2 separate regions of the Homo sapiens genome follow, and region 2 is linked to region 1. The links come from fine-mapping of genetic effects on gene expression. Tissue or cell type: whole blood. Region 1 holds a variant in brackets; the other region holds the start of a gene. All regions are shown on one strand. Distances are between the middles of the regions.

Region 1 (4,264 bases):
ATTATAATTTGAAATATGAGTAAGAAATACGTAGGGTCATGATCTCTATAAGCCCATTCTTTGCTTCTTAATTAAATTTTGCAGCTGATAGAAACATTGAAAGCAGAGCATTAGCTTATAAATAATTCAGAAAATGGTTGGTAACTCCCATAGTATATGTTTTATGAGTTTTGTTTAAGAAGAGTCTATTTCGTGTTAGGTAAAGTTGGCCATTGTTTAGAATAAAGACCTGCATTACTTTCTATTCTAAATTAAACTGTTAATGGGAGTGCTTGCAAAGGCCTTGGTGCTTTTTTTTCTGTTTAATAGGAGCAACATCACTTTGGATCAATTATTTAATTTCCTTATGTCAGAGTTCTTTCAATTTAAAGGAAAATATTTCCTTTCCTCATTCCTTTTTCTCTGAGGATGAACCAGACATTGGAAGTTGTAGCCTGGGATTGTACTGGAGCTCTCACTGTGGTTGCATTCTTTCTTCACATTCAGCGTCCTCCTTAAAGCACACATTTTCACGTACATCTATTAAATTACCTGGGAGAGAGTTCTAGACACTATCAGTCAGTAAATCCAGTTGTCTCATTTTTCAGTTTTAGCTATTGTTGCGGTCATATGCCAAGGCTTGTATGAATGAAGGGTCTATAAAAATATCTGCTGTGGTGTGATTTTTTTTATCCTTGTATGAGACCATAGCATGAGACAGTAGACTGGCAAATTGGCAGGGCGAGGAGAGTGTTTGTGCTTACACGGGGCAATGAAAAGAGTTTTGATTCTTCTTTAGCTAAATGTTATAAAACTTTAAAGCTTACATTTGAATAATCGTTGCAGATGGGTTAGATAAAATCCATCAACTCACAATGTTTTTCCTGTTTCCATTCACTAGTGAGTAACAAGGTTAAAAGAAGGAATGTTCTATAAAATAAGATATAGAATTTGGGTTAGGTTTACAAGTGAAGAGTTCCTCTTTGCCCTGCCCCCAAATTATTTTTAGGCCCCAGGCCTCTGAAGCCAAGGTAATCTGCAGGGCAGCTTTCACATTTTATCACAAGTCAGTGGTCTCTCCTCTTCCTTGTCCCTCCTATCTTGCCGGCAAATGGCTCTGTGGGAAACCCATTCTGCTTCCTGTTTAAACTGTAGAAACAATTCATTTAATTCAATATCTAGCTTTTGATTCTATTTGCAAAAATACAGTTGTAAATAGTTCCATTCATTAGCCAATTTTTTTTTTGGTCTGTTAAGCATATTTGGGTCATTTTATAGTTAACCTTGGCTGAGGGAGAGAAGTTCTTTGAAGCTCTTACTTACTTACTTGTGAATTTTTGGGTCTGATATGGAGGCTTTGCAGGTCAGAAGCATGGCTTGACTGACCCAATGCCCATTTCTGGCTCTCTTCATCCTCGCTGACCTCTACAGTAGAGAAAGGAGAAGCTGAATATTCACTGCTCTAACCTCCCTTGAAGCAAGGGGTGGCCTTGTAACAGTTCTGGCCAATGTGGCATAAGCAGAATTCTGCTGAGGTGGGTTTTGGGAACGGCTTTTGATTTCCTAATAAAAGAGGCCAGAACTGCAGGCACTATTCTTTCCACCCCTCTTGGTCTTGAACATGGCTACAATGTCTGGATCTATAGCAGTCAGCTTGCAACTTTGAGACAATATGCCAATCTAAAAATGGTAGAGCAGAATTATAGATGAACAGATGAACCCTTGGTTTTTATTAGATCATGGAGCCCCATATTATACAGTACTGCTTCCCTTTAGACATCATACATGAAAAATAAATCCCTTTGTGGTAGGTTTAATACAAGGCCACAAATTCTTTGACACTCCTCCCAGCAAAGTCTAATTCACCCTCCCTTGAATATAGGCCAGCCTTACCCACTTGATTCTAACTAGTAGAATTCAGTAGATGTGACACTGCATGACTCTCCATGCTAGGTTCACAAGTGATGCGGTTTCTGCCTTTTTCTTCTCTCTGACATGTGCCTTGGGAGCTTTGAGCTGACATGTTAGAAGTCAGTCTACATTGAAGCTGCCATGCTGAAGAACTCATGTGGGAGAACACACAGAAATCGAGATGCCTGAGGAGCCCCAGCTGTACCAGCCTCTAGCTCTCTGAGTCTTCTCAGCAAGAACTGTCAAACATGAGAGTGAAGCAGCCTTCAGATGACTCTGGCCCCAGTCTTCAAGTGCCCTAGCTGGTGCCAAGTGGAGCAGACAAGCTGCCACCCACCAAGCCCTTCCCAAATTGCAGACTAGGAACAAAATAAATGTTATTTTAAGCCACTAAATTTTGGTTTGTTATATATTATAGCAATAGAAAACCAGAACCCCTTTTTTTAATGCCACTGTTAGTTGGATATTCTGTTACTTGCAGCCAAAAGCATCCTTATGTGAAATACTTAGTAGTAGAGAAGATTAAAAGAAATCACTAAAACGATCCTTTTGAGTTGCTATATGTGTTGATTATCCAATCTATTCCTCTCTTATTCT[G/T]TTTGTAGCAATCCATTTCACTGTAGCACTGATATCATAACTTCCCATTGAAGTCAGTGCTGCTTTAGTTGTATAAAGGTTTTATTTACAAAAGGGCTGGGCTAGTAGAAACATGGAAAAAGAGGGACTTCAATTCAGGGCCCCATACTGCTGTTTTCCTGCTCTTTTGGCATTTTGATTATAATAAAGACAATATTAGTAACTTCTTCACTAGGAGGTAAAGCTTGAGAGTTCCTAACTTTATAAAACTCTCATCAATGTTTGAAGCTGCTTTCTTAATGAAATGCTCCTAGCATTTGACAGCTTTATTTTTTTCATTGACATTTGCAGCTTTTAAAATAGATGAATATTTAATATCATGTTTAATAGGTCAGATTCTTTGAAGAAAATTTCCATTAATTAGTTCCCATTTTCTAAAGAATTGATGGTCACTCAGTATTGTTGGAATTCTTAAAAAGGTTTTAATCATAAATTTATTTTTAAGTCTGGCGTATGGAAACTAGCAAGGTTGTTCTAGGTTAATATACATATCCTTACATGGGAGCTACACTATAAATTAAAAATCTTTTATCCCAAAGTAACATAATACTATTTTTAGTGATGGAAATTCCTAAGCAGCTTTGCAATATTGTTTGGGCAGTCTTATTCTACTGCACTGAAACTTTAAACCTGAAAGAACAGAACTGCAACTCCTAAAAGCTAGTTGCACAAAAGCCAACTTCAATTTTGTGTCTTTGTTTACTCAATGTCCACATCCTTAAACTGTTGGCAAATTCGCAGCTGGGTGGAGCAGCAAAAATGTCATTGTGCTGATGATATGGGGAGGGATGGGTGTGGAGGCTAGATTGGGGCACCAGAGGAGTCCTTGCAAAGAAAAGTTACATAAGCGATATCATATGCAGAAGCAGCCTCTGGGTTGAAAAATAACTGCACAGGGAGTGTCAGCCTTTCTTGGATTTCACTCCCTTATTTACTATCCTTAAGGGTCAGACCTATATTCCTGGGTGGGCTGGAGAGTCTAAGTGCAGTGAGTTCCTAATAGCAACCCTGCACAATAGCTTAAAAAGCCTGGCAATGCTTTTTTGTTTTTAAAATTTTGTCTCAAGGCAGCAAGGTGCTGTATGCAAAAGCTGAATGAACATCTCAATGAGAAGCCAAAACAGGACAGATGTTTCATGCTGCGCCTCAAATCTGGTTGCTTCCAGCATGATTTCCAGGAAGCACAGAAAAACGGAGAAGACAACTGGTTTTCCTTGGCAGCTCCAAAGCAGATTAAAACAAGCACTAATTTCCCATCCTGTCCTTCTTTCGCCTATCCATCTTTTTTAGGAAACTAAATTATTAATTCATGAGACAATGCCTTGTATTCATGACACCTGATATTTTTATTTTTGTAACCTGTGAAAAATAAGTTGTCATTGTGTGTCTCTCCTGTGTCAGAGATTCCTTGGGGTCCCATGTCATAATTTACTTGGTACCAAGCCCCCATCTAGCACCTGAGGGAAATTATATATATGCAGTCATACAGACTGTGGGAATGGTGGGAGTAGGGATGAAATGTAACAAAACTGAGACAACTGCAAGTACATATGAGATCTGCCACCTGCCTAGGGTGACCCTGAACTCTGAGCACCCCAATATGTTAAGTATCACTTGAGATCTTCACATCATTAGGGAGAGGCAGGTATTTCTGTTCTTTGGCCATCGTGTGCTCCACATCTTACTTGATGGCATTCTTTGGATTAGGACCCTTAGTGTCAGTCCTAAGCTCCTCAGA
Region 2 (4,132 bases), 230 kb before region 1:
TTGTCAACGTCAAACAAGGAAATGCAAGTGAAAACACCTAACGTAGTACACATTAAAAGCACAGATGAGCTCAAATAAGACTAAAGGAAATGCAAGTGAAAACACCTAACGTAGTACACATTAAAAGCACAGATGAGCTCAAATAAGACTATCATTCAGGCTCTGTGTGCTTAAAGTTATTTAATCTGAGTATCAGTTTCCTCACCTAAAACCTGAGGATGAAACTACTCAAGTGGTTTTTTCTCCTATTTGACTAAGGTACCCACTTTTTAAAAGTGCGATATGGGAAGAATATTCTTTGTAAGATGATAATTCACTATAAAAACGTTGTATTTCTTTCTCCATGTTGTCTCTTACGGATAGACTACTGTCCTAAAGGTCAGTGGACCCACTAACTGGTTATCTTATCTAGGCCTCAGTTTCCTCCTCCATAAAATGACAGGGTGGGACTGGATGATCTAAATAGTCCCTTCCGGCCCTTAAAAAGTCCCATGACTCCACTATGACTCAATAAATACTATTTCAAGAGTCAGCTTTTAAGAATAATATGGGCTTGAAGTTAAATGAATGTCTCCCTTTTCTATAAGTTACTTTTTGTTAAGATAAGGTCTTGTTGAGCAAGTCCAAACAGTATTCTAATTACGAAAAAAGAGAGCTGAAAAATAAATTTACAAGTCAGAGCTTTAAATTGTTAAGTACTCGACATATATGAGATGCTGCCTGCAAAACCAAAATCCAATTAGACGGAATTAATTTTAAAATACTAAAATCACAATCTTCATTTAGTGTCAACTTTCTACCCCGTAAAAATGTGATTTCCCCTTACTGCAACACAGAACTGCTTCTATTCATACCAATCAGAAGTTACAGGGCCAAAATGTTTTTCTAAACTATTAAAGAGAGTGGGAGAGGGGGGAAAGCGAAGGGGAAGGAAACCATCTGCTTTAACTTGCAAAAATGATCTTTTCTCCAAAAGACATCAGTGTTTTTCAGAAGAAAAATCCGGAGAGCCCGGTTCACTGGGCGTAGTTTTAAATAAAATTCATGGCGCTGATAGTTTTAGGATTAGACACCTCGAGATGGCGAAAAAGAGAAGAGGACAAACTTCCTGGATTTTCTCTCCCTCTAAGAGAAAGAGATTTCCTCTTGCTGACGAAGGGAAAGGCCCCTTTAACAGTTTTTCTCTACACGGTGGCTGCTGCCAGACTAAGTGGGGCTCTCTCCGCTGCCTTCCTCCTGCCACTTCCCGCAACAAATGGAGCAAGCAAGCCCCGTTTCAGGCAAACTTTTTCGCTGTCAGGCTCAAGCCCGCGGGGCGCCTGGGAGTGGTTTCCCCCGAAGGCTCCTCGCCCTAGCTCGGGGCTGGGAGAAGCTAGGTCTTCGCAAAGGACAACTTTCTGGTTTCCGTTCTAACTTCCACCCATACCACGGAGGGAACCCAGGCGACAAGCGAGGGGGCTCGGGGCGGGGAGCGAGTCTTCGGGGGAGCCGGCGGGGAAAGGAGGGCGGCGGGAGAAGCTGCGGCGGACGCGGGCTGAAGAGAGCGGGCGGGTGGGGGGGTCCTCGGGCTCTCACTTCCTCCGCCATATTTCAGACATTTGACCCCTTCCGCAAAGCGCGCTGTTCTCCCGCGGCGGCGGCGGCTGCTCCTCCTCGCCGGCCCGCAAGGCAGCGCGCTCGCGGGCCCGGCGCCTGGCCCTCGCGCCACCTGCCGCGCGCCGAGGGGCTGCCGCCGCCGGGGCCCCTGACCGCCGCGCCCGGCCCGCGCCTCGCCGCACCCCACCCGCTCCCCTCAGCCGGCGCCCGGCCCCGCGCGGCCGCCGCCGCGGCTTCCCTCAGCGGCCACGCACTCACTCTGCGAACCTCTCACGCTGTCACCGGGTCCCTGCAGCCAGCGTCGCCCCGCGCTCCCCCCGGGTCGCTACTCTAGGCGCCACGGCGGTCCTGCCGCTGCCGCGCCGCTCCGGCTGGTTTACACGCCTGAATCTGGGCGAGGTTTGGCGATGTCGCCTTGACGTCAGGCGTTCAGCCTCGCTCCAGCTTCCGCCCGCGGGCGGGGCGCGCGGGTGCGCGGCCCGGGAAGGGGCGGGCCTAGGGGGCGGGGCGAGGGGAGCCGAGGGGGCGGGGCCGCCGCGCGCCGGGTCCTCGGCGCCGGCCTCTAGCCGGCCTGCATCGCAGCCGGAGCGCAGGCCCTGCCCACGGGCCCCTTAGCTGCCTCTGGGCGGCATGTCTGCCGAGGTTCTTCTCTCTAGCTGCGCCGCGCCTTCAGGCTCGCTTCCCCAGGCTGTCTGGTGGGCGGAATCCGCGCGTCGGTGTTCCTGACCCTCGTGGGTTCCAGTGGAACCCTCCGAAACCCAAAAGGCGCCGCCTCTTAATGCAAACTGTAGTCACCGACTCGTCCAGTCTGTTGGTATTCGCGTCGTCCTTTGTGCTGGGCAAAGTAACCGAGAAGTAACGGAGAGCGCGCATTTTCTACACCTAGAGCTCCCCGAGGGAGCCTGGGCCAGCAAGTCTTTCCATTCTTGAGATGCCTTTTCTCCTGGATTGACAAGTGTTTTATCCATTGGTGTCTTAACCCGGGCGAACTCTTTCCAAATTCCCATGCCAAACGCAGTTAACAAATCGATGATTTCTAAATAAGTTTGTACCCTGCACCTAAACCAACGCCATTTATATAACTAAAATAAATTGCGTATTTAAATGCATGTCCTGGACGCTTTATTCACTTCACAGGATTACCCATAGGCAAGTAGGTTTATCGTGTGACTTCAGGGCACCAGAAAACACTTTCTGTTCCAAAATGCCTCGTTCCAAAAAGGGCGGGAACTTAACACGGGAATTTACCATTCTTACTTACCCTTAGTACAAGAAATTTATCAGAACTTTTTCTTGAAGCAGTTTTGATGGGCGAGGAGATTAAGAGAGCAAAGTGCAGGGAAAAGGGATTGAGGGGTCATTTAAGACTAACTTTCTTGGTTCATAATTTAATTAGGCCCTGTACAAATTATTCTTGAAATAAATCTTAATAAACGTTGATAAATTTGGAAGATAAATGGAATGTGACTAATTTCACTCCGTTTAAGAATATGTAGTGATTGAAAACTAAGCTAACCTAAGTTAAATGAATAGATGAGAATGAATTATAACAGTTCTCTGTGTTTTATAATGTTTTACAATTTAGGTTAATTGAGTAGATTACCTATTTCGATAATTTCTATTTCCTTAGAAAAATATCTTTTTAAAAATTGTTTATTGTCTGCATTTATTGTGTATACAACATGATCGTTTGAAGTAATGTATACATTGTTACATTACCTCACAGAGTTACCTTTTTTTTTGAGAGTCTTGCTCTGTCACCCAGGCTAGAGTGCAGTGGCATGATCTCGGCTCACTGGAATTTCTGCTTCTCAGGTTCAAGAGATTCTCCTGTCTCAGCCTCCCGAGTAGCTGGGATGACGGGCGCGTGCCACCACGCCCAGCTAATTTTTAGTAGAAAGGGGATTTCGCCATGTTGGCCAGGCTGGTCTCGAATTCCTGACCTCAGGTGATGCGCTCGCCTGGGCCCCCCAAAGTGCTGGGATTACAGGCGTGACTCACCGCGCCGGCTGAGTTAGCATTTTTTTTTTCTTTTTTGAGACAGAGTTTCGCTCTTGTTGCCCAGGCTGGAAGGCAATGGCGTGATCTCGGCTCACTGCAACCTCCGCCCCCACCTCCCACCCTCGGGTTCAAGCGATTCTCCTGCCTCAGCCTCCCGACTAGCTGGGATTACAGGCATGCGCCACCACGCCCGGCTAATTTTGTATTTTTAGTAGAGACGGGGTTTCTCCATGTTGGTCAGGCTGGTCTGGAACTCCCGACCTCAGGTGATCCGCCCGCCTGGGCCTCCCGAAGTGCTGGGATTACATGCGTGAGCCACCGCGCCTGGCCTTGAGTTAGCATTTTTTTATGAGAACACTTAACATCCATTCTTTAGAAAACCTTTTTAAATAAAAGTTTCAAAGGCAAATTTCAGAGCAGTCCGTTGGAATTACTGTAACTTCTCAATGAATGAGTGAATTACAAATAAATTTGACTTTACTAACTTTTCAGTTATTGCATAAAAATTTGATAACTGAAAGTCTGAAACTTTGAG

What was found. PIP is the estimated chance that this variant, and not a neighbour inherited with it, causes the effect.
Region 2: it holds the start of RAP1B, and the variant in region 1 is fine-mapped to the expression of RAP1B in whole blood (TOPMed, PIP above 0.99).

What each region holds. Positions count from the first base shown.
Region 1 is chr12:68,378,456-68,382,719 of GRCh38, reverse strand. No RefSeq gene overlaps it. Among named protein-coding and RNA genes, the nearest start is that of MDM1, 48 kb to the right of the region's middle. The variant G/T (reference allele first, on the strand shown) is at 2,488.
Region 2 is chr12:68,608,775-68,612,906 of GRCh38, reverse strand. It overlaps RAP1B (RAP1B, member of RAS oncogene family), which reads right to left and starts at 2,008. Exons shown (of 8, transcript NM_001010942.3): 1 at 1,864-2,008. RefSeq lists a silencer at 1,692-2,151.